Linked DNA regions of Homo sapiens. The protein of the gene in region 1 interacts with the protein of each later gene in a pairwise test. Each region holds a gene or a part of one and is shown on either strand. Other genes may lie near its edges. The genes, in order: PLSCR1, CCDC33, BCL6B, DTX2, DEPP1, CCER1 and PGLS.

What was found.
Region 2: the proteins of PLSCR1 (region 1) and CCDC33 interact in a two-hybrid assay, tested with the Homo sapiens proteins (one large-scale study listed by BioGRID and IntAct).
Region 3: the proteins of PLSCR1 (region 1) and BCL6B interact in a two-hybrid assay, tested with the Homo sapiens proteins (one large-scale study listed by BioGRID).
Region 4: the proteins of PLSCR1 (region 1) and DTX2 interact in a two-hybrid assay, tested with the Homo sapiens proteins (one large-scale study listed by BioGRID and IntAct).
Region 5: the proteins of PLSCR1 (region 1) and DEPP1 interact in a two-hybrid assay, tested with the Homo sapiens proteins (one large-scale study listed by BioGRID and IntAct).
Region 6: the proteins of PLSCR1 (region 1) and CCER1 interact in a two-hybrid assay, tested with the Homo sapiens proteins (2 studies listed by BioGRID and IntAct).
Region 7: the proteins of PLSCR1 (region 1) and PGLS interact in a two-hybrid assay, tested with the Homo sapiens proteins (one large-scale study listed by BioGRID).

The regions. Positions count from the first base shown.
Region 1 is NC_000003.12:146,517,644-146,520,607, forward strand, and holds part of PLSCR1 (phospholipid scramblase 1), read right to left. Parts: intron 1-2,964. UniProt on the Homo sapiens protein: Catalyzes calcium-induced ATP-independent rapid bidirectional and non-specific movement of phospholipids (lipid scrambling or lipid flip-flop) between the inner and outer leaflet of the plasma membrane resulting in collapse of the phospholipid asymmetry which leads to phosphatidylserine externalization on the cell surface.
Region 2 is NC_000015.10:74,270,826-74,274,325, reverse strand, and holds part of CCDC33 (coiled-coil domain-containing protein 33), read right to left. Parts: intron 2,624-3,500; coding exon 2,532-2,623; intron 1,556-2,531; coding exon 1,435-1,555; intron 1-1,434.
Region 3 is NC_000017.11:7,026,050-7,030,144, forward strand, and holds the end of BCL6B (B-cell CLL/lymphoma 6 member B protein), read left to right. Parts: intron 1-407; coding exon 408-572; intron 573-655; coding exon 656-786; intron 787-900; coding exon 901-1,038; intron 1,039-1,453; coding exon 1,454-1,570; 3' UTR 1,571-3,595; downstream 3,596-4,095. UniProt on the Homo sapiens protein: Acts as a sequence-specific transcriptional repressor in association with BCL6. May function in a narrow stage or be related to some events in the early B-cell development.
Region 4 is NC_000007.14:76,496,209-76,499,708, reverse strand, and holds part of DTX2 (probable E3 ubiquitin-protein ligase DTX2), read right to left. Parts: intron 2,373-3,500; coding exon 2,232-2,372; intron 1-2,231. UniProt on the Homo sapiens protein: Regulator of Notch signaling, a signaling pathway involved in cell-cell communications that regulates a broad spectrum of cell-fate determinations.
Region 5 is NC_000010.11:44,976,010-44,980,060, forward strand, and holds DEPP1 (protein DEPP1), read right to left. Parts: upstream 2,801-4,051; 5' UTR 2,609-2,800; intron 2,047-2,608; 5' UTR 2,022-2,046; coding exon 1,383-2,021; 3' UTR 119-1,382; downstream 1-118. UniProt on the Homo sapiens protein: Acts as a critical modulator of FOXO3-induced autophagy via increased cellular ROS.
Region 6 is NC_000012.12:90,952,377-90,956,519, forward strand, and holds the start of CCER1 (coiled-coil domain-containing glutamate-rich protein 1), read right to left. Parts: upstream 2,801-4,143; 5' UTR 2,367-2,800; coding exon 1,146-2,366; 3' UTR 1-1,145. UniProt on the Homo sapiens protein: Regulator of histone epigenetic modifications and chromatin compaction into the sperm head, required for histone-to-protamine (HTP) transition.
Region 7 is NC_000019.10:17,510,193-17,514,448, reverse strand, and holds the start of PGLS (6-phosphogluconolactonase), read right to left. Parts: upstream 2,801-4,256; 5' UTR 2,777-2,800; coding exon 2,489-2,776; intron 1-2,488. UniProt on the Homo sapiens protein: Hydrolysis of 6-phosphogluconolactone to 6-phosphogluconate.

The DNA.
Region 1 (2,964 bases):
CCTAGAAAAGATTAGCAGTTTGGAGTAAAGGCAAATACCAATAAGTAACTTGATGAAATGCCCCACGCCAAGGGTTGAGGTTGAGAGTGGATAACTAGTGGGGTGTGAATAAAAGATGAAGAGTGTATGAACAAATGAGCTCCGAAGTAGAAGTTTCCTAATTTTACAATTCTGCCTGAGGAAAGCCCAGGGCCATCATATAGGGTTGAATGGACTTTGCTCAGACTAAGGCAACTCCTCTAGGAGGGCAGGTGGGGACTGAATGTAGCTGAAATTCACAAAACTATGTACACATATAGTTGTATTAACAGAGGAGTGTCCTTTTCAGCTAAATAAATGTGGGGAATCTAAAAATACTTGACTCATTTTATTTGAGTACAAGTGGATAGTTTGTAAAATACTAGAAATAAACATCTAATATGAAGCTGATAGCATAATACTGTTCATCAAATATTCATTTCATTCCCTCTCCTTCTGTAGGGCCAGTATACTTCCTGTTCCTTCATAATTAGGCTTGGCCATGTTACTTGTTTGAACAACGGGTGTTAGCAGATATGACATGAGTAGTGTCCTTAAACTTGGCTAAGTGCTTTGGCCTGGCTTATGATCTTCAGTGACAAGCCACTAGAAAAGCATGACTCAGGTAGCTGCTGCTGCTACAGCCATAGAACAAATCTACCTGGAGCAGATTGAGGTTAACATGCGCCTAAGTCAGTGCTTAAATACATCCACTGAAACACAGTTGACCTACACACCCATAAGCATGAGTATAAACACTTATTGCAAGCTGCTGAGTTTTAGGGATTATGTGTAATGAAATACTACTGTGGTGAAATAAACTAATACAAATCCTTTCTTGTACATGTTAGTATTTTTCTGCTAATAGCTGTCATTGAAGCATTTGAAGCTAGTAATGAAAACTCTTATGTTTTATTTTTTAATTCTGAAATTTAAAAAAATGAAAAATGCAGCTGACAACTTACTAGCCACCGTAAACTCAACACTATACAGATAAAGATATTAACATTTGCCCTTTTTGATTACTACAGCAAGAAATTTAACAAAGTAGAGAATACATTTTTTATGGCAAGGATAAGAAATGCAAATAATGATCTTCAACCAATAAATTAGCAGGACTAGATAATTTTTAGCTAAATTGTAGACATTTTGGAATAGAAAATCACTATAATAAAATGTCAACATTTGGAAATAATAAATTGGTATTGTATAATGTTAAACTTTCAAATCCATGAGTGCAATACTAATTGGTAAAAGCATTCTAAAAAGAAAACCATAGATTCATCTCACAATGCAAATATAAATGCAAAATACTGAAATATAATGACAGCATATAGGATCTAGGTATGTAGCAAAGAAATATAAAAAGTGTATCATGAGTATATTAATAGTTGCTGGTAAGCTATTTTATTTACTTACTAATGATTTATTTATTTACTGTTATTACACCCAATTTTCATGTAAAAAAACTAAAGCAAAGAGAAGTGAAAGAATTTGTTAAAGTCACATAGATAAGTGTTGTGAAGATGGGTTTCAAACCTGGGCATCTGGCTCCAGTGTCTATACTCTTGACCATTAGGATTGTCTGCTTTTTAAAAACATATTTATTGAATACTAATGAAAATCTAGTTGAGAGGGCAGGAAAAAAAATCTGTGGGCTATAGTTGACCATATAAAATTTATCACTACTCAGGATCAGTTTCTATATTTTGAGATTCCTGAAACACAACAGTGGCAGGAATTCAGATTTCAAGCTCATAGACAGAGCTGACTTGGTATGTCAGTTTCATGTGGCCATATTTTTTCCCCCTACCAAGAGTCCTTGAAGGAGACAGACTCTCTTATCACCTATATTGGATAAAAGGTCTACTAGGCTCTCTCTTACTCACCATTAAGATAACCTTCTTAGAGATTCAATTACTGTCTGTTTGCTGAAAACTCTCCATTCTTTTCCTATACATAACTAAAATCCAACATGACCTTAATTCAAGTCATTAACTTCCCATATATATTTTATATAATCAACTACAGCTCATTGATTATATTTTGCTGATCCCTGACCTAGATGTGTATTAGTATTTGATACCTTACTTTTTAAAAAGCAGACTATCATAATGGTCAAGAGGACACAAATCAAGTGTTTTTCCTCCAAGATTCTTAACTTGGCCAATGTAATATCAGAATAATAACACATCAAGTTTATCTCCAAAATTTTTTTCATCCTCAATTGATATCAAATCCATGAATTAGTTCCACATAGTACACCTATGAAATGCCTCTTGAGTTATTCTCTGTTTTAGAATGACTCCTGCCCCTGCTGTGGAACAGGCTTTTATCTCTTTTATTACTTCAAGTTTCCATGCCCAGTGACACCCTGGTGGATTTCATGTTCCTTAGTGGTCCCTCATACTGATAATTTCTGCTTTGAGGTGTCAAAGTTTCCATTGTCAACTCTATGGAAAATTCTTCAAGTGACTATTTCTCAATTCTTTCCATGAGAGTACCTTGATATCATCATTCTAGATAAATAGAAGAAAAGTTAATTTATTACATGGAATGGATGCTTTAAGGTATCCATCAAGAAAGACTGCCAGATGAAACATAAATTTTTTAGTATCAAATACAAGGATTACACAATGTTTTTCCAGTGTTTTCATTTATTTACTAAAAATAAAATATATGCCAGCCAAACTTCTGTTAATATTGTTCCTTGAATGAGAAATTACTTTTCACTTCTCTGGATGTAGGACAGAGATTCCATCCCTTACATGAAGAACTGCTATTATGCATACCCTTACATAAAATTTTTATACATGCATATTATGCACACATATACATACACACATTATATAATCCCCTTATAAGAGCCTTTTTAAAGTTTCTATATCACATCCTCCTTAGAACTGCAAATCTCTGTCATTAGATTATGAAGTCAATGGGGGAAAG
Region 2 (3,500 bases), on another chromosome or scaffold:
GAAGAGACCAATCTGGCTATTCCCCTGAACCCAGCCATGTTCTGTGCGTGCACCCGCCCCCAACCTCATACTCAAACACACAGCCCTCCTGTCTGCCCTGACATGGGTCATAGCCTGCCTGTCTCCACCTCACACTTGTGCTATTGCTGTGTCCAACCTGTACCAACCCTTCCTCTGTTAAAAATTCAAGACTGCCGGCTGAGTGCAGTGGCTCATGCCTGTAATTCCAGCACTTTGGGAGGCCGAGGTGGACAGGTCACAAGGTCAGGAGTTTGAGACCAGCCTGGCCAACATGGTGAAACTCCATCTCTACTGAAAATACAAAAATTAGCCGGGCATGGTGGCGGGTGCCAGTAATCCCAGCTACCTGGGAGGCTGAGGCAGGAGAATTGCTTGAACCTGGGAGGCGGAGGTTGCTAGTGAGCCAAGATGGTGCCACTGCACTCCAGCCTGGGCAACAAGAGCAAGACTCTGTCTCAAAAAAAAAAAAAAAAATTCAAGACTGCCTTCCCTAATCCAGGCTTTACATCCCTCTCCTCTGATTAAAAAAAATTTTTCGCTGGGCGCAGTGACTCATGCCTGTAATCCCAGCCTTTTGGGAGGCCAAAGCGGGTGGATCACCTGAGGTCAGGAGTTCGAGACCAGCCTGGCCGACATGGTGAAACCCTGTCTCTACTAAAAGGATAAAAATTAGCCAGGCATGGTGGCATGTGCCTATAAGCCCAGCTACTCGAGAGGCTGAGGCAGGAGAATTGCTTGAACCCGGGAGGCAGAGGTTGCAGTGAGCCAAGACTGCGCCACTGCACTCCAGCCTGGGAGACAAGAGCGAGGCTCTGTCTCAAAAAAAATTTTTTTACTGGGTTAAAATATACGTAACACAACATTCACCATTGTAGCCATTTTTAATGTACAGTTCGGTAATGTTAAATGCATTCATTTGTTCGTATTGTTGTGTAACCATCACCACTATCTATTTCCAGGACTTTTCATCACTTGAAACGGAAACTAGGTACTTATGACCTGTAACTCCCCATTCTTCCCTTTCCCCAGCCCCTGTAGCCACTGTTCTACATTCTGACTCTGAATTTTCCTATTCTAGGTATCCCATATAAGTGGAATCATATATTTGTCCTTTTGTATCTTCTCCTCTGATGTGATAGCCCTGACAGGCCCTCCCAGTTTGTTATTAGATTATACATTATCTTGTGTTGATGTTCAACTTTTTCACCCACGTGACTCCCATCTTCACCAGACCAAGAGTTCCTGGAGGGCAGTTTCTCTGCCGCACAGGCGAGCACAGCACTGGGTATGCCGTGGGATTCAGTCAACTCTTACTCGATAGTCAAGGGAACTGCTGACTGACTCACTGAGTGAGTGAACAGTGAATGTGTGGGGTAGTTACAGGAAGCTGGAACCACTGGGGAGGAGACATACCTGAGGGCATCCGTTCTGGCTGACGCGAGGCACGTCAAAGTTCATCATGGACGGGATAGGGAAGGACAGTGGGGTGATGGGCAGCCCCACAGAGGCCAGGTCCCTGTTAGCCTGGCTGACCCTGGGGAGGCAGGGAGACAGGGTCAGTGCTCTGGGCTCTGCACCTGAGCCTGGCAGCCCAGGGCCCCCCGCTTAGACTCTGGGTTGATGCAAGAGAAGGGAGTTGCAGGGATCCCGCCGAGTTCGGGCCTGGACCTCACGACAAGTGGGGACCACTGGGCTGGGCGTGCATCAATCATCTTCCTTCCTCCAACAAGCAAGGGGGCTTCATAAGTCATAAAAACTCAACAGGAGATACAGAGAAGTAGGGGAGTCATCTTGGGCCATCAGGGCCAGTTGGAAGTGACCAAGACAGACCCTGACTCCCAGGAGTCGGTGCTGTGGCAGAGAGCACACGTTCATAGGGGAATTTCCCACTGTGTGGCAAAGTATGAATCTCCTCTTGAGGACTGTGACTCCAACAGACTCAAAAGGAGGTCTAGGGGAGGAGGGGATGAGTTGTGGCTGGGACCAGGGAGACCTCCAGGATGAGGAGGGAGGAGACTCCGCCCGGCAGGGCTAAAGGCTGTGAAGTTCCAAGATGGCCTTTGGGGCCAACCACTGGCTGGAGCCTGTGGCCCTGAGCTAGAGTGGGAGGGGGAGTGGGGAGGTGGTGGGTGTGAGGCAGGGAGGCAGGTTGGAGGGGCTGAGGTTCCCTGAGCAGGGAATGAGGACCCCTCTTGTTGTCCTCCCCACACTCTCTAGCTGTTAGGCCTGGTATCGGCACTCATCCCCACCACCTGCCCTCCAGCTTGCTCTCAGGAGAGGACTGAGCTGCCCCTTTCCAGGGGCCTGGGCTCTCCCTGGGGAAAGAAAGGCATGGTCTGCTGCAGGAAGCTTACTGGGACCTCAGACCCAATGGAGAGGCTTGAAGGGCCTTAGGGGTAGAGGGGTTGCCGGAGGTCCTGGAATCAGCCCATGGCAGCAATGACAGCCTCACCCCCTCCTCTGCCCTCTGCTCTGCCCTCCTCACCCAGGTCCACCTGGGCCCCACTCACTTAAATTCCTTGTAGTTGGGAACGACCCGGGCAATCACCACTATGGGGTTGGGGTTGTTGGCCAGGGGCTCGTTGACTCCCCGGAGAAAGATCTGGAGAGGAGAGGAGAGGAGGCAGGTGAACACCATGTGGCCTTGGGACCTTCCAGAGACAGCCAGCCAGACTGCCTACCCTCTTTTTCCCCATCCGTGAGCTCATGGCTGCCTCCACACTTGACACCTGCTTCTCCCTGTTCCCTGCCTTACTCGGTTCTTGCTTTGCACCAGGCTGCCCTCCCTCAGGAAGCCTTCTCTGCCGAGCTGAGGCAACTGCTCCCGCTTTCTGTCCTGGGATTTACCAATGGATCTCTTACACTAGTTTCTTTGGGGAGAAAGGGTACGATGAGAGTTGGGTCCTGGGAAGGGAGGTTGTGTTCTAACCTCGGCCCCTCCACTGGCTCCTGGGGAGGGGTTGGGCTAGGGGTAGGGCTAGGTGTTCCAGCTCCTTGGTTTCTGTCAGTCAAATGAGGCTCCTCCCAGGGCTGTGAGGGGTCTCTGATTAGATCGTTTGTGAGAGAGCACTTTATAAACTGAAGACAGGAAGCCCAGGTCTGGTTTCTCCGACCATGCTGAACTTCCTGAGATCAGCGGCCACAGCCAGGCTCCCCTTGCCTCCCTCGTGCCCATCACCCTGGTGCCTGCTCCACTGCTCACCCTGGTGCCTGCTCTCCTGCCTTGCTGGTTTCCCCAGGAAGTACTGGTTTGGAACAGGATCATAGCATCCGCATCTCTGGGCTCCTCTTTCTTCATCAGATCCCGGTTGTCACTCCCCTGACCGCCCTTGGTTGTTCCCTCCTCAGTCCTCTGTCACCCCCTAAAGGCTTCCCTGCCTCCCAGTCCTGACTGCCCTCTCCTCTACTCCAGGCTTCTATTGGCGCAGCTTTCAGAGAGCCGAGCGGGGTCCCAGCAGGAGGTTACAAAGCAGGAGTGG
Region 3 (4,095 bases), on another chromosome or scaffold:
TAGCTGGGACTACAGGCACGTGCCACCACACCCAGCTACTTTTTGTATTTTTAGTAGAGACGAGGTTTCACCATGTTGGCCAGGATGGTCTCCATCTCTTGACCTTGTGATCCGACCGCCTCGGCCTCCCAAAGTGCTGGGATTACAGTCGTGAGCCACCGTACCTGGCCCCCACCACTGCTATTGAAGAGGAGATTAGCTGAGTACTCGAGTCAGACAGATGTGCAGTCAGATCTGGCTCATCTTACTATCTTCTTACTTGGCCTTGAGCAAGTCAAACCAGCCCCAGAAGTCTTAACAATAAATTGGGAAACAGAAAGCCTGCTACTGTGTGGTTTGAGGATTCAGTAGTACCTAGATAGCCCTCATTAATAACTATGGTTGCCGTCACCCATTCCCCTTCCCAGGAAGTGAATTTTTCAGCTGCCAGAACTGTGAGGCTGTGGCAGGGTGCTCATCGGGGCTGGACTCCTTGGTTCCTGGGGACGAAGACAAACCCTATAAGTGTCAGCTGTGCCGGTCTTCGTTCCGCTACAAGGGCAACCTTGCCAGTCATCGTACAGTGCACACAGGTAGGGGAAGAGAGGGCCCTGGCCTTCAAGCCCACAGCTGTCCTAGGGCAAAGTCCCTGATCTCCCATGTTCTCTGCCTCCAGGGGAAAAGCCTTACCACTGCTCAATCTGCGGAGCCCGTTTTAACCGGCCAGCAAACCTGAAAACGCACAGCCGCATCCATTCGGGAGAGAAGCCGTATAAGTGTGAGACGTGCGGCTCGCGCTTTGTACAGGTACGGAGCCAGCCTCCAAGTGGCTTCCAAGGCAAACCTGCAAGAGGTGGGGTGGGCCAATAGGGAGGGTTCTGTTCCTCCCAGAGGCAGGACTTGAAGTCTCCTCCCTCCCAGGTGGCACATCTGCGGGCGCACGTGCTGATCCACACCGGGGAGAAGCCCTACCCTTGCCCTACCTGCGGAACCCGCTTCCGCCACCTGCAGACCCTCAAGAGCCACGTTCGCATCCACACCGGAGAGAAGCCTTACCACGTGGGTACCCAACCTGGCCTGCCCACTGCCTTAGAATTACCTCTCCTTTGCCTAGGGGTGGGCTCTGAGAGGTGCGGGCCTGGCTGTCCCTAGATCTCTTAGAAATGAGCGGTGGCCGGAAGAGTCCAAGCAAATAAGGGGTGGAGGCTGGGAGTCAGGATGGGCAGGTATAGAAGTGATGCTCCTGGGCTGAGCACTGTTTTCTCAGAGAGGAGCTGAGAAGTGGGAAAACCTTTGCTAAATAAGGCGGGGCCTATCCCCTCAGCCACCCCTGAGGATTTGGGAGGATGTGAGAGTCAAAGAGCTGATCTTCCGCTGGATAGTTCCCACCTGGGAGAGCTGGACGGCCGCCCGGCTCAACACCTAAAAGGTGATTGTGGATGGGGCAGGGCCTGACTTGGCTGTCCTCCCACAGTGCGACCCCTGTGGCCTGCATTTCCGGCACAAGAGTCAACTGCGGCTGCATCTGCGCCAGAAACACGGAGCTGCTACCAACACCAAAGTGCACTACCACATTCTCGGGGGGCCCTAGCTGAGCGCAGGCCCAGGCCCCACTTGCTTCCTGCGGGTGGGAAAGCTGCAGGCCCAGGCCTTGCTTCCCTATCAGGCTTGGGCATAGGGGTGTGCCAGGCCACTTTGGTATCAGAAATTGCCACCCTCTTAATTTCTCACTGGGGAGAGCAGGGGTGGCAGATCCTGGCTAGATCTGCCTCTGTTTTGCTGGTCAAAACCTCTTCCCCACAAGCCAGATTGTTTCTGAGGAGAGAGCTAGCTAGGGGCTGGGAAAGGGGAGAGATTGGAGTCCTGGTCTCCCTAAGGGAATAGCCCTCCACCTGTGGCCCCCATTGCATTCAGTTTATCTGTAAATATAATTTATTGAGGCCTTTGGGTGGCACCGGGGCCTTCATTCGATTGCATTTCCCACTCCCCTCTTCCACAAGTGTGATTAAAAGTGACCAGAAACACAGAAGGTGAGATCACAGCTCTGCTGGCAGAGATTACTAGCCCTTGGCTCTCTCGTTTGGCTTGGGTATTTTATATTATTTCTGTCATAACTTTTATCTTTAGAATTGTTCTTTCTCCTGTTTGTTTGCTTGTTAGTTTGTTTAAAATGGAAAAAGGGGTTCTCTGTGTTCTGCCCCTGTAATTCTAGGTCTGGAACCTTTATTTGTTCTAGGGCAGCTCTGGGAACATGCGGGATTGTGGAATTGGGTCAGGAACCCTCTCTGGTATTCTGGATGTTGTAGGTTCTCTAGCAGTCTAGAAATGGATACAGACATTTCTCTGTTCTTCAAGGGTGATAGGAACCATTATGTTGAGCCCAAAATGGAAGTAATAATAAATGCCTCCTGGAGGCTGTGGGTGTGGGGGATTCTGTATCTGGATTCCGTATCACTCCAAGTGGAGGCTGGCAGGTTTTTCTGCAAGATGGTCCAGAATCTAAAATGTCCCATTAATCTGGTCACTTGGGTTTGGCTCTGCTGTATCCATCTATAGTGGTAGAGACCCACCAGGGCTCAAGTGGAGTCCATCATCCTCCCACGGGGGCCTGTTCTTAGCACTGAGTTGATCGCTCCATGGGGGAGAGATCAGACATTCCTTATCAGAGATGATGTGACCTTTTCTGACTCTGCCCAGTCTCTATGAATGTTATGGCCTAGGGAAGAATCATGAAACTCTTTAGCTTGATTAGATGGTAAACAGTGTTAACCCATCCTTTACTACAGAGGCATATGGGTTTGAATGTTACCTGGGGTTCTCTCTATTGAGTTGAGCCCCTTCTTCCTTTAGTGGGTTTTGGACATCTTCTGGCAAGTGTCCAGATGCCAGAACCTTCTTTTCCTCTAGAAGGGATGGTGCTTGGTAACCTTACCTTTTAAAAGCTGGGTCTGTGACCTGGTCTTCCCATCCCTGCATTCCTGTCTGGAACCAGTGAATGCATTAGAACCTTCCATAGGAAAAGAAAAGGGGCTGAGTTCCATTCTGGGTTTGCTGTAGTTTGGTTGGGATTATTGTTGGCATTACAGATGTAAAAGATTGACTAGCCCATAGGCCAAAGGCCTGTTCTAGTTGACCAAGTTTCAAGTAGGATTAAGAGGTTGGTTGAGGGGTGCAGTTTCTGGTGTAGGCCAGGTAGGTAGAAAGTGAGGAACAGGGTTGCCTCTTGGCTGGGTGGAGTCTCTGAAATGTTAGAAGAAGCGCTGAAGCCTTGATTGATAGTTCTGCCCCTTGTTGCCCTGGGGCTTATCTGATTATGGGACGAGGGTAGAAAGTAAGAAGCACTTTTGAATTTGTGGGGTAGAACTTCAACAATAAGTCAGTTCTAGTGGCTGTCGCCTGGGGACTAGTGAGAAAGCTACTCTTCTCCCTCTTCCCTCTTTCTCCCCATGGCCCCACTGCAGAATTAAAGAAGGAAGAAGGGAAGGCGGAGGAGTCTATAAGAAGGAATCATGATTTCTATTTAGCAGATTGGATGGGCAGGTGGAGAATGCCTGGGGGTAGAAATGTTAGATCTTGCAACATCAGATCCTTGGAATAAAGAAGCCTCTCTGTGCTGCCTGCTGTGTCCTGGGTTCTTGCCTTGGGGGACTCGGGGAGCGAGGAAGAGAGCTCTTCCTCCTGGATAACATCTTGGATTCTGTACCATTCCACTGTCCCTTCCCACCAGACATTTTAAATGGTCCTCGTTGTCCCCTTCCCTGCCCTTGCCTTCCTGCTCATTGTGTAGGAACCAGTGACTTCATGAAGTTTCTCCGGAGCCACCTGCATCCTGCTGCTCTGAAGTCACTTCCTGCCTGAGGTGTGGAGGCTGCAGGGAGAAACCAGGAAGCCACTAATAATATCAAGAGGCCGGGGCGTGCATCTGTGCTGGAGATCTTAATGCTGGCGACATGCCTCCATCACCAAGGAAGATGGATAAGAGTTGGGTCCCGTAAAGACCACAGGGGCTGGAGGTGGCACTGAGAAGACTGAGTTAGAACTAACGGGCCAGCCCACCCTCCCCCAGCAAGGGTATCTTGAATCTATCCAGGGTCCAGTGCATGCATCTCTCCCACC
Region 4 (3,500 bases), on another chromosome or scaffold:
TGGTGAGGATCGGCGCGGCCCGGGGCGTTCTCTAGGTAGTGGGAGTAGCAGAACCACAGAAGCCAGCAGCCAAGCCCGTGCGGGGGTGAAAGAGGGACGGGGAGCCCAGTGCCACCCGTGGAGGCGCTCCTGACAGGGGCTCCACCCCAAGGTCATGGTGGGGCTGCGGTCGTCCCAGACTCCAGGACCAGAAGGGGCTCTGGTTTGAATCCAAGCTCACGGCCTTCAGGGGCTGCAGAGAATTCTAAGCCTGAGGGCTCACAACTGCACCTGCTGAACTCCCTTTACACCAAAAAGGGCCAGGGAGGGGACAGTTTGGCAGGGAGGTGGCGTGGTGGGGTGGAGGCTGGAGTCGGCACGGTTTGTTTAATTCTAGTTCTCTTGCTGTGAACGAATCATGCCACCTCTGAGCCTCGGTTCCCTGATCTCAAACGGGAAAGACGAATATGTAACCAAGCTGGAATTGCTGTGATGGCATGGCTGCTGTGACCTGGAGGGAAACTGCTGGCAAGACCACACCCCCCAACCCCCATCCACACACCCCACACCTCCACACCTCCTCACACCCTACACCTCCATACACCCCACACAGCTCCACACACCCCACACCTCCACACACCTCACACCTCCACACACCACACACAGCTCCACACACCCACCTCCACACACCTCACACCCCACCTCACACACCCCACACTTCTACACACCCTACACACCTCACCCCTCCACACACCTCACACCTCCATACACCCCACACACCCACCTCCATACACCCCACACCTCCACACACACTCCACACACACTCCACACCTCCATACACCCCACACCTCCACACACCCCACACACCCTCACCTCCACACACCCCACACACCCTCACCTCTACACACCCCACACACCCCACACCTCCACACACCCATACAGACTGCCCGAACCCAAATCCTGTCACGGTGGCGAGAACGCCAGACCAGAACGATGGCCCCCAGCTCAGGGTCGCCCTCCGTGTGGCTGGAATGCCCTACTCAGGCTGAGGGGGGCCTTTTCCTTTGGAAAAGCCTGCCAACTCCAGAGCCATCTCCGGGTGAGCCTGGGCCTCGCCTCTGCCCAGCCCTGGTGAGGCCGGGCACAGCATCCCACCCCCGCCCACCCACCCCAGCCCTTGCAGCTTTTCAGAGCAGAAGGGAGCTTTCCATTAGCCACGTGTCTCAGAAGGGGCCAGCCAGGCGACCCACCAAGAGCGTGTCCTTCCCAGGTAAACCCGAGTGCCACAGAAGGTTGCCAGCCCGGGCTGCCAACGAGTCTGGCTCCTCCCCCAGGGCAGGGGAAGGGCAGGGCGTGCAGAGCCCTGGGCTGGGGGCAGGAGCTCGAGGCCCACCCCTCCCTGAGCCCACCTCCTCGCCTGTGGGCTGGAGGTCGGACACGATCGGAAGCCACCCTTGCCGCATGCCAGGCGCTTCGAGTATTTCCTAGACCTCGCCAAGCCCCTCTGCTAAGCGGAGGCTCCGAGAGGACCTGCTGAGATGACACAGACACTGAGGGCCAGCAGGGCCACGGCCACCCTCCCTGCCCGCCACCACGCCCACTCAAGAGCGTCTGGACTGGCCACAGTCCACACTTCCACAGCCCAGGGGTGGAAGCAGGGCCAGCACCCGCTTGGGAAAGGTTCAGAACTTGACCATCACAGGCTGCTCCGAGCAGGTCTTGCTGTAACTCCCTGGACCTGCTGTGGTCCTAAAGCCCCTTCTTCTGTGGCCATGCAACGAGCAGGGCAGGGGTCACCGAGGGACCCCTCTCAAGCAGCCCACGTGGCGGCCACACAGGGCTGGGGGTCAGGGCAGCAGACCTGGGCAGCAGACCTGGGCCGCTGTCTGGGGGCCTTTCCCGAGACACGTGCTGGCCCTGGCGGAAGGGACGGTTGTCCCCGCATCCTGAGCCGGGCGCCGCCTCTCACCCACAACTTGTTGCTTACAAAAATCACAAAGTCCTCAAGAACAAGCCCCCTCATGCCAGCTGTGACTGGAGGAGAGGAGCTGAACTCTGGGGCTGCGGTGGAAAGTCAGCTTCCAGGGGCCGCCTCTGCTGCCGAGCGGGGGCAGGGAGAAGGGCCACTGAGCCCCTTCCCCCAGGAGTCAGGGAGCAGAGAGAAGGAAGAGGGTCTGTGCAGAAGAGTCAGAGGCAGCGAGGCCGGAAGGAGGCTTAGCAAAGGCCAGAGAGCTTTTGGGAACAAGAACTACCTTTCACGGACATTTTCCTCAATCTCTTAACTGAGCCGTGACTTTTGGAAGCCAGACGGGAGGCGGGAGGGCTGGTGGGCTGGGGTGCGCGGCTAAGACACACAGGGAGTCCAATGGCTGACATCAGAACACTCGTCATGCCTGCACGGGTGTGAGAGCAGACACGCAGAGAGGGAGAGACATTAGAAGACTCCTTCGGCATGTGACGCCAACAAACCCTGCTCAGGCCAAGGATGTGACACCATCAATGGCCACGGGGACGCACAGGTCTCCCTGGGGACTACCCAGGCCAGGAATCAGAGGGTGGGGCAGCCTGGCTCATGGTAGCCCTGGCCCCAGAGCCCACAGGTTTCTATAGGAGCAACAGACAAGCCCGTGCCCTCAGTGTGCAGGTGGGCACCGGGGCAGGACCCGTGACTTCAGGAGAGCAGAGGGCGGAGGACGCCACTCCAGGAAGCCGCCCGGGGCACGGGGTCTCCTGGGTGGGGCTGGCTCCAAGGGCTCAGCTTCCCCAGGAGGCCCTGGGCCCTCCTGGCTTGGAGTTACTAGGCCTCCAGCCTCCACTGGGTGCTGTGTGTGCTCCATGCCCCTCCTGGCTGATCTGGGTGCCAGGGCCTTCAGCGACAGCGCTGGGGTAGGCGGGCAGGAACGTGGCCCCTGGGCCTGCTCCCACACTGCAGCATCCCCATACTGTGAGGGCTGGGCTGCAGCAAGGCCCCAGGCTGTGGCTCTGGCGCCCTCGGGCAAGGGTGGGCCTGTGGCCAGCAGCTATGCTGGGACAGACCGGCCACTCTTTCCAGAGCTCACCACTGCCGGATGCCTGCAGGGAACCCCACACTTGCCCTGGGGGACTCTCCTCTGACACTGCTTCCTTCGTGCTCCCTGATGACCCAGCGCTTCCTGGGACACAGCGTGTCCTGCTGGACGAACCCGTTCCTGCCACACCCTCGGCCTACCCCACTTTCCATAGTGCCAGCTCCCCGGTCCTCCCTGTCATCGGTCAGTTAGGTCAAAAGCACCTCCTCTCCAGAGAAAGGGGAAGCCTAGAGCTTCTTAGCCATCTCTTAAGGTGGCTTCCAGGGTCTGCAGAACCTGGCTCAGGAGCTGGGCACAGCCGGCTGCCGGGGGAGTTGGTAGAAATCCCAGTCCTCCTGGACCCCACTCCCCATCCAGGAACAGATGGCGTGACTCAGGGGTGAAGGGCGGCCAGGCCAGCCACTGCGCCCCCACTAGAAGAACAAAGCTTCTCAACCCGGCACATGTGCCTGG
Region 5 (4,051 bases), on another chromosome or scaffold:
CTGGATCTCTCCCGAGGATGATGATTGGCTAAAGGCTGCCCCGGCTAAAGGCTGCCCCACACGTTTGCCCAAAGTCAGGGACCTGCAGGTTTGAGACCACCACAGAGACACAGTGGGCTGTGACAGATACAAACATTTGTCTACAGTGCTCATAAATGCAGCTCCAAGTTCACATGCGCAGATTCCCAGCCCTTGCAGGGTGTGAAGAACATTGCTGATGTCCCCATTTTATAGATAAGGAAACTGGGTAATTGCTTGTCTGAAACTTTTTCCTTTTAATATGGTTTACATTCTATCTCCAGAGAAAACACACTTAACAGAAGACAGAAAACATTTAACAAATCCAAAGCAATTAAAAATAGCCACAAAAAAAGAGAATAACCTAGACTGACAGCTCACAGAGCAAGGAGGTGGCAGAGACCTGCCCAGGTGAGCTTGGCTGTTGCCCCCAGCTCAATCTTCCTCCTCTCCTCTCTCTGTCCCTTCACCTCTGATCAGTCCCAGCCTGATTCCCGTTCCCTGATGCCTCACCTTCTTGCTGCCAGATGCCTCTAGGAACTAGGGTCCTTCAGACTCCAGATGCCCTGACCTGGGCCTTAGGACATCTTGACTTCCCCAGTGGACAGCTGGACAGTGCCCTGCTCTCACCCACAGCTGGGACCCTGACCATGCCATGAGGCCCCTGTGTGGAAGTGGTGTAGGGGTGGGGATGGTAGCACTGAGTGGTACAGATTCTATCTTGGCCCTCATCATGGGGGAACTCTCCCAATGCCACCACAGGACGTATGAGTTGTAGCCAGCAGAGTGCCCCAGTGGTGCCAGGTGACAGTCCCCCGGAATACATTAGTGCATTTGCTAAGACTCCATGTGTTCTCTTGGGCCTCACAGAACATGGGCTTTGAGGGTGGGAGCCAAGAGGCAGACTTGGGAGTGCCCGAGGCCTTGTTCTGAAACACCTGGGGGGCTGACACCCCCACTACCCTCACACCCCTACCACCAGTTTCCCCACCAGCGATGATGGTAGCTACTCAGCCAGTGGGCTCCTATATGCGGTTACACGTCAGAATGGCCTGGGAGGCAGGTGCCAGTAATTATCCCTATATTACCCATGAGAAACTGAGGAACACAGATGTTAAGTAAGTTGCTCAAGGTGATCAGCCAGCAAGGGTCAGAGCGAACGGGATTGGTAACATCTCCTCATGTGAAACAGGCTGTTATCATATTCAGAGGGGGTCGGTCTCACTGTGAACTGCCCAAGCAGGGGCCTCTGCAGAAAAGCATTTCCCTTTCAGAGACCTGCCAGGGGCAGTGACCACCATGGAGGAGACGAGAGGAGATGCAGACCCAGCATGCTCTCTACAGAAGCCTTTACTGGGGAGGGGTCAGAGTTCATGGATCACCGGGAGGTGCGAGTAGAGTGTTCTGAGGACACTGCTGGGGCGGGGGCGGTGGCGGGAGGCCATGGCTTGGGCAGACTGCCCAAAAGTCCAGCTTCTTAGGTCAGAGCTCTGCTGCCCATCCTGCGGTGGTCTTGCCAGGGAATGCCCAGGCATCCTGGCTTCACAGAGCCTCCCTCTGGGGGCCCCCATGGGCTTGCTGCTGTCCATCTGTCTATGTGGACCCCAGAGGCCAGCAGAGGGGCCAGTCCTCCTTGGCAGGTCCCTCTGGCTTGGCTGCTTTTCCTGGGACTCCCCAAAAAGCCAGTCCAGGGGGTCCACAGTATCAGCCATGGGCAGTGTGGGCTGCTGGCCACTGAAACGTGCGGTGATGTCTCGCAGGGACACAGCAGGGCGGCCCTTCCGGCAGGCCTGGGCTGGCCTGTGGGGTGGCCTGGGTTGGCCCTGGGCCGTGGCCTTGTCCAGCACAGAGGTGGGCTGTGCCAGTCGAGATATAGACCTCACGTAGTCATCCAGGCTAGGAGAGGGTGGGGGCTCCTGTCCAGGACCCCCAAGCAGCATCTCCTCCGTGGTCTCCCGAATTGTGGGCAGATGGGCCACGGAGAGCAGAAGCCGGGACCTCATCACTCTGGCGAGAGGAGGTGGCAACCTGTTGGGAAACAGAAGCCTGGTGGTGAGGGCCTGCCATGCGTCCCACCGCCCCTCAGCGTCACCACACTCCTCTGGGGCTGCCTGTAGGAATCCGGTGCCCTGAGAGCAATTTGAAGTCTACAGAGCCCAGACCAGAGCTCCGACTGCTGGGATCTTTTCTTCCTGTTCAGGTTAAAAACCCCAAAGGCTTAAGATTTTATCATTATCGTTTCAGAATGTGCACAGATAAGAGAACCTAACCTAACAAACACTGGTCAGAGGAAGGCTGGGTTTAAAACCAGGATCGGCCACGCACTGACCATGGGACCTTTGGCAAGGCCACCTCTCCAGGCCTCCACTTACCCATCCATAAAACAGGGTTATAAATACCCCTGGCCGGGATGTTGTAGGAAATGCATGAAATAACCCCTGAATCCCTTTATAAATGCAAAGCCCTCTACAGACAGCCCTGGTCTCTAACCCATAGGGAGGCTGTGCAAGTTCAGGCTGGGAATTGCCCTCAAAAATAAACAAAGCCCTTGTGTTTTGTCTCAAACCCAAGGGCAGCTGCTCTCTCTTACCTGGAGCTGAGGAGGTCTGGGGGTGGCAGGAGAATGGATGAGCAGGGACAGTCCAGTCCAAAGGAAGCCCCTGGGAAGCTTGGGGGCCGAAGGGTGGAGGGTCCGGCAGGGGGTCCAGCGTGGGGTCGCTGGGAGGAGGACAGTGCACTGAGTCTCACAGTCCACCGTAGCAGGCTCTTCCCTGAGCAGTGTGAAGAACCTTCGCAGGCAAGCTGCTTTTATACCTTCCCAGCAGCTATCAATCACTGTCACGAGGGCCAAAAATAGCCTGCTCGGAAGGCTGTCTTAGGAAAACAGCTTGGTGGGCGGGGCCTGGCCCAGCTGCCAGCTTGGAGGTGTTTTTCTGCCTGTAGGAGGCTGGGGAATGTTTACGCTGCAGGGCAGGAAAGGGGTGGGTTCACTGCTGGTCAAGTAGGGGCACTGGGAGAGGGAGGGGTTCCACTGGGCCCTCACAGGTAGCCCCAGGGCCACCCCTGCCCCAAAGCTTGTTTCCCACTCTGTGTTACACCACCCCATCATGACTCCTGTGAAGTTGGGCCAGGTCCTTGGCAACTTTGATGAAAAATCAGCAGCACAGGACCCCAGTCTGGAGGCAGCTGAGGCTGGGTCCCTAGGCCTGCTCCTAGGAGAGACACACCCTGCTCGCAAGGGACCAAGGGCGGTCTGCGGGGTCTGACCCTGGTCTTCTTACACCCCAGATGGGGTGCTTTCGGAGGATTTGTTTGTTTACTTGTTCACCAGATATGAGGTGCTAGTGTGTGCTGTGAATGCACTAAGCACAGCAAACGTAGCAGCGGACAAAGGTGTGGCCCCCTGGAGCTCATATTCTAGTAAGGGAGGAGATCAAGCCAGAGATGAATGGGTGCTGTGATTCAGGCAACAGCAAGAACTGCCTGAAGGAAAGCAGCGCAGTGGCATGCTGTGGTGGGCTGCCGCCACAGGTACAGTGGTCAGGGGTGTCTTCCCTAAGAGCAGATATTGGAGCAGAAACCTGAAAAAAATGGGAAAATGCACATTCCAGGTGGCAGGGGCAGCACGTGCAAAGCCCCTGTGGTGAGGGCGCGCCGGACAGACATGCTCAGGGCACAGCAAGGGGCCTGCAGACTGGCCCATGTAGGAGGGGGTCAGTGGACCTTGGGGTGGATGCTGTGTTTCCCTCTAGGAGGGAGGGAAAGACTGCAGGGTTTGAACAAGGGCACTGCAGTCTGGCTTCTGCTTCAAAGGATCGCTGCAGCTGCTGGGACTGGGCTGGGGCTGGGGCTGGGGGGCTGCCAAGGAGCACCTGGGCAACATTAGAAAGCCACTGCATCTGTCCAGGAGTGACCATGCCAGCAAAGGAGGCTGCCAAGGATGAGAGAGGCAGCCCCTGGGAAGCTCCTGCACTCCCCAGACAGGCCACAGATCCTCTGCCCCAGCCACAGCCCCACCTGGAACACGCCTGCC
Region 6 (4,143 bases), on another chromosome or scaffold:
AGGCATGTTTAAATTCATCATCTAGGGATATTCTGGAAATATGCTATGGATGGAACTTTTATCAACTGTCCAGGAAGAAATGTATTATTACTTCCTAAAAATGTTTGAACAAAAGCTATTACTTTGAATGATGTATTCTCCATAGGTAATTGCTGTTTAGACATCAGAAACTAGCTCACACAGACTCACACTTACACATCTTTGTTTTACTCTTCTTTATAACAAAGACAAATTCAAAAACAAAATAAGATATTCCACCCCCAAAAGGTAGATAATCTTTTTATCTAAAAAAAAAAATCCATTCTGGAAAACTATTTTTATGGCTCCTCAGAACTTAGGATAAAGACTATATCCAATAACGAGGCTTCAAAACCTAAGCCATGTTCCACTGTTTGCAGTTACCTTGGACTTTAACTAGATGTGCAAGTTGACTTCTGACCATGGGGAATCCTCTCCATGACTGGATTATGGATTGTTGAGGCCATGGCAGATAACCAGTTCCACAGAAGCAACTTCATGTTCTTCTGAGGAAGATCCATAGCACTGTGGAACAAGGAATATCAATAAGCGATGACACAAGAGCCTGCAAATGAGGTTAACAAAATATAACCCTCAAAAATGAACTCTGATGGTGGAAAAATCTATGAGGAAAAATATTGTTGAAAAAATACAGGGATTGAAAATGGCTTCAGTTATGTTAAGAGCACTGGTGAACATTTAGTAGCGTTAGAATGTGCTTCTTACGCATGTAATAAACTATCTCTTGATTCCAAGCTCATTAAGTGGCCAAGTTGTATAAATTTGTTTCAAAAACAAACGCTTTTTCAGCATTGCCAGATTTAAAAAAACAACAGCAACTCTGTTTTCTAGAGGGGAAAACACCAAATGAAAATATTCAAATGGTAGTAATAAAATACTTGGCCTTTAATCAGTTCCAGTAAAATTATATTTGAAAGCTTCCCCACCACCCACCCATAGTCATACACATACGCATCAAATTTTAAACATTTTATAATGGCCAAAGAAGGTGTTTACATAGATCTGTTTATTAATGGAACTCACTTTTTAATCAGTTTTTAATAAATTGCTAATCCAGTTTAGCCTCAAATCAGTTCCATCCCTTTTCTCAATCCCTTTTCTGATGTCTAACAGTTAAAGTCCTGTGCCATGAACAGGGATTCCTGTGGCACTTTGGGAATTATCTGCTCTGGGTTTAAAAAAGTGCAGCTTATAAAGTTCTCTCTCTTTTCTTCAGCCTCTACGAAGATTGATAAAGGCATTTCCAGAGGCAAGTGAAATTCTTCCCCTCTCTGCTCGTTCTCCTCCAGGACCTCCTCTTCCTCTTCCAGCTCCTCCTCTTCCAGCTCCTCCTCTCCCTCCTCCACATATTCAGCCTCTTCGACCTCTTCTTCCTCCTCATCTTCGACCTCTTCCTCCTCATCTTCGACCTCTTCTTCCTCCTCGCTCGCCTCCTTTGCATCACACACCTCCTGGTCATACTCCTCCTCATCATCATTTTTCTTCTCCTCCTCTTCTTCCACCAGCAGCGGGGCAAGAGACTGGTTTTCCTCTGGGTTGGGACTGAATGCTAGAGAGGGATTCTGCACAAAGCCATACAGAGTTTCCTGCAGTCCCCAGGTTTCCTTGCTGCCGCCAGGGGGCGCGTCGTTTCCGGAGGATCTGGCTGGGGAGGCCTCGCCGCTCACCGTGGCCTTCTGCGCCCGCAGCGCCTCCTGCTGACGCTCCACCTTCTCCTGCTGCCTCATGTCCTCGTAGATCTGGTTCATGATGAATTGGGTGGTGTTGGGCGGCGCTCGCATGCCAGGCTCTCTCCACTCATACAGCTTGACCGGCCGCGGCAGCGTGCTCACATCCGCTGGCGGGCTCCGCGGGTAGGAGTGGCGAGGGTGGTGGCGCAGGCCGCGGCCTCTGCGGCCCCAGCGCTTCTTCCTGCCTGGGGGCTTCACCCAGCCAGGGTTCCAGGACCCGCTCCAGCAGGAGCAGCAGCAAAAGCAGAGAGGGTGCAGGCCATACACCCGAAACACTTGCACCGGGCAGGGGAATTTCCAGAATCCTGGAGGGGGTGGGCGCCAGGGCCCTCCCCAGCACCCCCAGTTAGAGCACACGGGTGGTTGGAACCAAAAGCCCGGGCCGTGCTGTTGCTTCGGCTGCTTCCTTGGGGGCCCATACTCGGTCTTGGGGCTATATCGGTGCGGTCTATTGTACGCTGGAGCACCCGGGCGCCTTCGATGGCAGGACGACCAGGAGCTCAAGGAGGCCGAGTGTGCCCAGCCACAGCCACAGCCGCCGCCGCCACCGCCGCCCAGGTTCAGAGGGTCTTCCCTTGTGTCGAGGGTCTGAGTCATGGTTCAGGGAGCTCCGAGAGGTCCAGATGGTAGCGACCTGAAGCTGTCGTCAAGTTTTGCCAGGTAGGACGGTCAGAAGAGCCTCGTCTCGTCAACCTGTCTCTCCACGCAGCGCCACGTGTCTACCCCTGGGATCACGTTTTCCTCTCCAGGAGGCTGCTCTCTTCCTGGTTTGCACGCTCTTCGGTAGTAATCGCTTGTCCTTCGCACCTGGGTTGTCTCGCCCAGGTGTGCTGGGTGGGACTGGGGCTGGGTAAGGATGGTGGGGGAGGAAGGTGTTGGCAGGCGACACGCAGTGAGACCCACTCCCGGGTCCCCACCACACCCGGCTCTGCTGAGGCACGGGCTGGGGCCGGGGGAGGCAGGGGTTGCGCAGTTACCTGCTGCTCCCTCTCAACCCAGGTGCTTCACTGTCGCCGTCCTGGCAGGACTGTGGTGGCGAGGGCAGCGGCAGCCTTTAAATACTGGCTGTGGTCTCCCGCGTGCCCACTGCGTTCTTGGTCACCCAGGGCAACAGCCAATTGGGGTCGAAATCGTCCTCCCTGTGTGCAAGGCCGGGTTCTGTCCGGAACCAGGCTCCAGGTGAACATTCGCAGGGGGCTTGTGACGCAGCGTTTGGGGGAGGTGAAGAGGGGTCCAGGCTGGGTTTCTGCTGCTCAATTCAAGCAAGTCTGGAGGCAGTTTATCCGAAAGCTTTGTATCACCTTGAGGCGGGGGTTTAGAAGATGGGCCTTCATCTGAACCCGGTGGGGGCGGGAGAACTTGAGTTTTGAAAACCCCACATTCTACACCTTTGGAGGGCCTAAGGGATCATGGAAAATTACTGGAGAAAGGAAACTTTGCCCAACCTCTTACCTTCTGGCCGGTGCCAACTCTTCTTACTCCTGAGAATTGGGATTCATAATACATAAAACAAGACCACGAACATTTATTATTGCATGTGCTCACTGACAAATAATCCTGTCATCTACCCTGAGAGGTAGGCGTATCTTATCACCTGTCACAGATGAGGGAACTGAGAGCTTAATTTCCCCATGGTTGTGGGGCTAATAAATTTCCAGGCTACGATTTAAGCCTAAACCTGTTTGACCCAAAAGTTAGGTTCCTAATGACATTGCTATGTGTTCTACCAAACCCCCAGTAGGACCCTTGTGATAACTAAATGACATAACATTTGGGAAGGTACTTTGCTATTGGTAATATACCGTACATGTGTACCTCAATTAAACAAATATTATTATTACCATAATGAATACCACAGGTTTGTCCTTGGGAAGAGGAATATTCTGATTGTCTTTCCTTTTGTCCCTTCACTGACCATACAGCATATACACGGGAAGCCTTTAAAGCATTGTGGTTAAGCATATGGGTTTTAATTTAAATAAATGGGATTCAACTTCAACTCACCAATTATTAATCTCTGTAAGCCTCAGTTTCCTTACCCATACCATGATTATACTACCTTTTCCATACGGTTGTGTAAAGAATTAAATGCATATAACAGGTCCTCTAATATTAATGTTTTGCTCAATGTCATTTCCTTATAACGTTGCTGAGGCAAAACAACAACAATAACAAAACCACGTTTCATTATATGTCTTCTCATTTAAAAGTAGCAGTTTCCAAGAACCTATGATGCTAAGTGAGGACTTACTGTAATTCCTTCAAGTACTTAGTGCAGGTACCCTGTAAGTACTCAGTAACTGTTAACTATCATCCTTATTTGTAAATACTTCATGACTTCTAAAAGAGATGATATAGTATATGTAAAGGCACT
Region 7 (4,256 bases), on another chromosome or scaffold:
GGGAAGGAAGGGAGGGAAGGAGGGAAGGAAGGAAGGAAATAGGGTCTTTGCAGATGTAATTAGTTAAGAACAAGTCATAGTGGATTAGTGTGGGCCCTAAATCCAATGACTGGCGTCCTTATATAAGATGAGAAGACACACAGAATCCAAGAAGGCCATGTGCAGACAGAGACAGGAATTGGAATGGTGTGACCCCAAGCCAAGGAACGCCCAGAGCCCCCAGAAGATGAGGAGAAAATGAAGGATCCTCCCAAAGAGCTTTCAGATGGGGCGTGACCCCACCAACACCTTGATTTCAGACTTCTGGCCTCCAGAACGGTGAGAGAATAAATTCCTGTGGCTTTAAGCCGCTCAGTTTGTGGTCATTCGTTATGTAGCCCTAGGGAACCGATATGATTCCCCTCACAGAGAACCGGCAGAAGGAGCAAGTCCTGGCTTCAGGTTTGCTCCCATCACACGGCTTTGGCCTTAGCTGAGCCCTCTTGCCACAGCTTGACCATGGCCAGCTCCTGCACATGCTCCAGCTCTCAGCTCAAATGGCACCTTCTCAGGACCTCCCACCCCATAGCCCTTGACGAATGCTCACTCCCTATTCCCTAGCACTCTGCAGCATTTCACAATTATTTATTTTGAGACAGAGTCTCAACTGTCGCCCAGGCTGGAGTGCAGTGGCATGATCTCAGCTCACTGCAACCTCTGCCTCCCACATTCAAGCGATTCTCGTGCTTCAGCCTCCCCTGTAGCCGGGATTACAGGCACACGCCACCACACCCAGCTAATTTTTGTATTTTTAGTAGAGATGGGGTCTTGCCATGTTGGCTAGGCTGGTCTCCAACACCTGACCTCAGGTGATCCACCATCCTTGGCCTCCCAAAGTGCTGAGATTACAGGTATGAGCCACCACGCCCGGCCAAAAACCTGCTTTTTTTTTTTTTTATCTTTAAGACAGTCTCACTCTGTCGCCCAGGGTGGAGTGTAATGGCATGATCTCGGTTCACTGATCATGCCTCACTCCTGCCTCAGCCTCCCGAGTAGCTGGGATTACAGGTGCGCACCACCACACCTGGCTAATTTTTGCATTTTTAGTAGAGACAGGTTTCACCATGTTGGTCAGGTTGGTCTCAAACTCCTGACCTCGTGATCCGCCCGCCTCAGCCTCCCAAAGTGCTGGGATTACAAGCGTGAGCCACCGCACCCAGCCAATTTTTGTATTTTTTTTTAGTAGAGACAGAGTTTTGCCATGTTGGCCAGGCTGGTCTCGAAATCCTGACCTCAGGTGATCTACTCACGTCGGCCTCCCAAAGTGCTGGGATTACACGCGTGAGCCACCGCACCCGGCCAAAACTTTTTAATGATGCTCTTGGAAAACACACACAGGAAGGCGGAAGTTAAATGTGTACCCAACTACGAAGTCAGATGAGGCAGGATCACACCCTGGCTGCCCCTCTGGTCACTAGATGCCTTGGGCAGGTAAGCTCACCTCTTCTGGCCTCAGTTTCTCCATCTGTGAAATGAGTGTAACATCTCATAGGCTGTGGTACGGACTCATGAATTGATGCATATAAAGCGTTCAGTAAGCCTTTTCTCTTAATAAAAAACCCACAAAACCATCATCAGCTCAAGATTCTATGCAAAGAGAAGACGGCACACCCAGCATGGGGTGTCCCTTGACGCTGCCAGACTCAAGTGACTTGAGGTTCCTGGCCTTTGAGCCCGCCCCTCCCACTCTTCCCTCGGCCAGGCCAAGGCTCCTCCAAGCCTCAGTTACCCTGTCTTTAAAAGAGCGCGCTCCTCTGATTCTATAGAATCCTGAGGCTCAAAGCCAAAGATGAACAGCCTGGAAGCAGAGCCATCAGAGCGGCAAAGCTGCCCAGGGATCCCCGAGAACTCGCTGGGGTTAGAGATCAGGACCCTGAGATTCAGGCTCTACACCTGATTCCTCGTGCCCCCGTCCGCTACGGGGCTGAGTTATGGGCATCGTTTGACATGGGCCACTCGGATTCCCTTCCAGGCCCTTGCCCGTGCCGTTCCCTCTGCCTGGCCACCGGATGAAGCAGGAAGACGGACTGCAAGTAGACCATTTCTAGCCCTGCCTAGATAAAGGCAGAGGGCGCAGTGAGGTCCTGCGGGACCCACTGTAGGCGGGGTTCAGGAGGCGGGCGAGCCCTGTCGGCTAGACCCCCAGCGGCCCCCGTAGTCGAGGTGCAGGCAGTGGGCGTGACCATCTCGGCATGACCCCCAGTGGCCCCCGTAGCCGAGGGCAACCGGTGGGCGCGGCCCTCTTGGCATGACCCCCAGCGACCCACGTAGCCGAGGTGCAGGCAGTGGGCACGGCCCTCTTGGCATGATACCCAGTGGCCCCCGTAGCCGAGGTGCAGACAGTGGGCGCGGCCCTTTCGGCATGGCCCCCGGCGGCCTCCGTAGCCGGGGTGTAGGCGGTGGCTGTGGCCCTCTCGGCGTGATCCCCGGCGGCCCCCGTAGCTCTCACCCGGTAGAGGCCGTACGTGCTCTCGGCGTGATCGAAGGGCACGAGGCGCTCGTCGCAGAAGCCCAGCGTCCAGCGCGCTAAGCTAGCTGGCCCGGCAGGGGCGACGGCGGCGGGTAGCTCGCGGGCTAGCATCGAGACGAGGCTCCCGCCCGACAGGCCGAGCGCGAAACGGGCGCGGGCCCCTGCCAGGCAGCATGCTGCGCGCTGGGCCACCAGCTGCGCTAGCGCCGCACCCAGCTCCTGGGAACTCGAGAACACCGAGATGAGGCCCGGGGCCGGCGCGGCCATGGCGAGGGCGGCGGCGGGGAGGAGGAAGCGCTCCCTACGGCCGTCGCTAGTACGCCTGCGCAAGGGCCGGCCCTGCCGCTTGGTTTCGAGTACTTTGGGTGATTGTCTTTGGCACATGCGCAGTGAGGCAAGTGAAGCACCGCGAAGGTCGGGCAGTCGGTCCGGCCCTACCCATTGAATCTTTGCCTGCTGTGCCTGAGTCGAAGTGAGTTCGGGAAGCCAGTGCCCGAATGCTCAACCTTGCTGTATCAGGGAGGGCCGGAGAGGGGAGCTCAAGAAGAGGACGTCCTATCGAGGTGGCAGGGATTTTCTGAAGGAGGGCGTATTTTGGTGAGTTTTAAAATTCCTGCACCGCCGGGCGCGGTGGCTGACGCCTGTAATCCCAACACTTTGGGAGGCCGAGGCGGGCGGATCACGAGGTCAGGAGATCGAGACCATCCTGGCTAACACGGTGAAACCCCGTCTCTACTGAAAACACAAAAAATTAACCGGGCGTAGTGGCGGGCGCCTGTAGTCCCAGCTACTCGGGAGGCTGAGGCAGGAGAATCGCTTGAACCGGGGTGGCGGAGGTTGCAGTGAGCCGAGATCGTGCCACTGCACCCCAGCTTGGGCGACAGAGCGAGGCTCCATCTCAAAAAAAAGTAGGGGATGAAAATATGCTTGTTGAATTTTTTTTTTTTTTTTTTTTACATTTTCCGGACGGACGGGCTCTTGCTATATGGTCTAGGCTGATCTTGAACCCCTGGGCTCAAGCGATCTTCCTGCCTCGGCCTCCCAAAGTGGTAGCATTCAGGCGAAAGCCACTGCGCCTGGCCATGCTTGTTGAATTTTTTAAGCTAACCCTCCTAGTGTGGTGGTGTGTCCCTCTGAGTGCCCAGAAAGGCCTCCAATCGAGTTCTTGCCTGGACAGAGGGCTGGAAGGGGAAGAAGGCCTGGTGGGCCTGGGGAGGCTGGGCCACTTCTGAGAGTGGGATATTTCAGTGATGTGTGTAAGCGCAGTTCAACTCACACAGGTAGTGGATTTTAAAATCAGTAGCAAATTAAGAAAACAATTCCATTTACCATAGCATCATAAAGTATAAAGTAGGCATAAATTTAATAAAAGAAGTACAAGACTGTACTTCTTGAGAGCTGTAGCTGGGCTTGGTGGCTCACAGCTGTAATCCCAGCACGTTGGGAAGCCAAGGCTGGACCCGGTGGCAGCTGCCTGTGGTCCCAGCTACTTGGGAGGCTGTGGTGGGAGGATCACTTGAGCCCAGGAGACTAAGGCTGCAGTGAGCTGTGTTCCTGCCATTCCACTCCAGCCTGGGCAATAGAGTGAGACCCTGTCTCGAAACAAGCAAAAGAACTAAAACTTTGGTGAAAAAAAAAATTAAAGATGATCTAAATAAATGGTAAGACATTCCACGTTCATGGATTGGAAAGTATAATATTGTTAAGATGGCAGTACTCCACAAATTGGTCTACGGATGCAATGTAA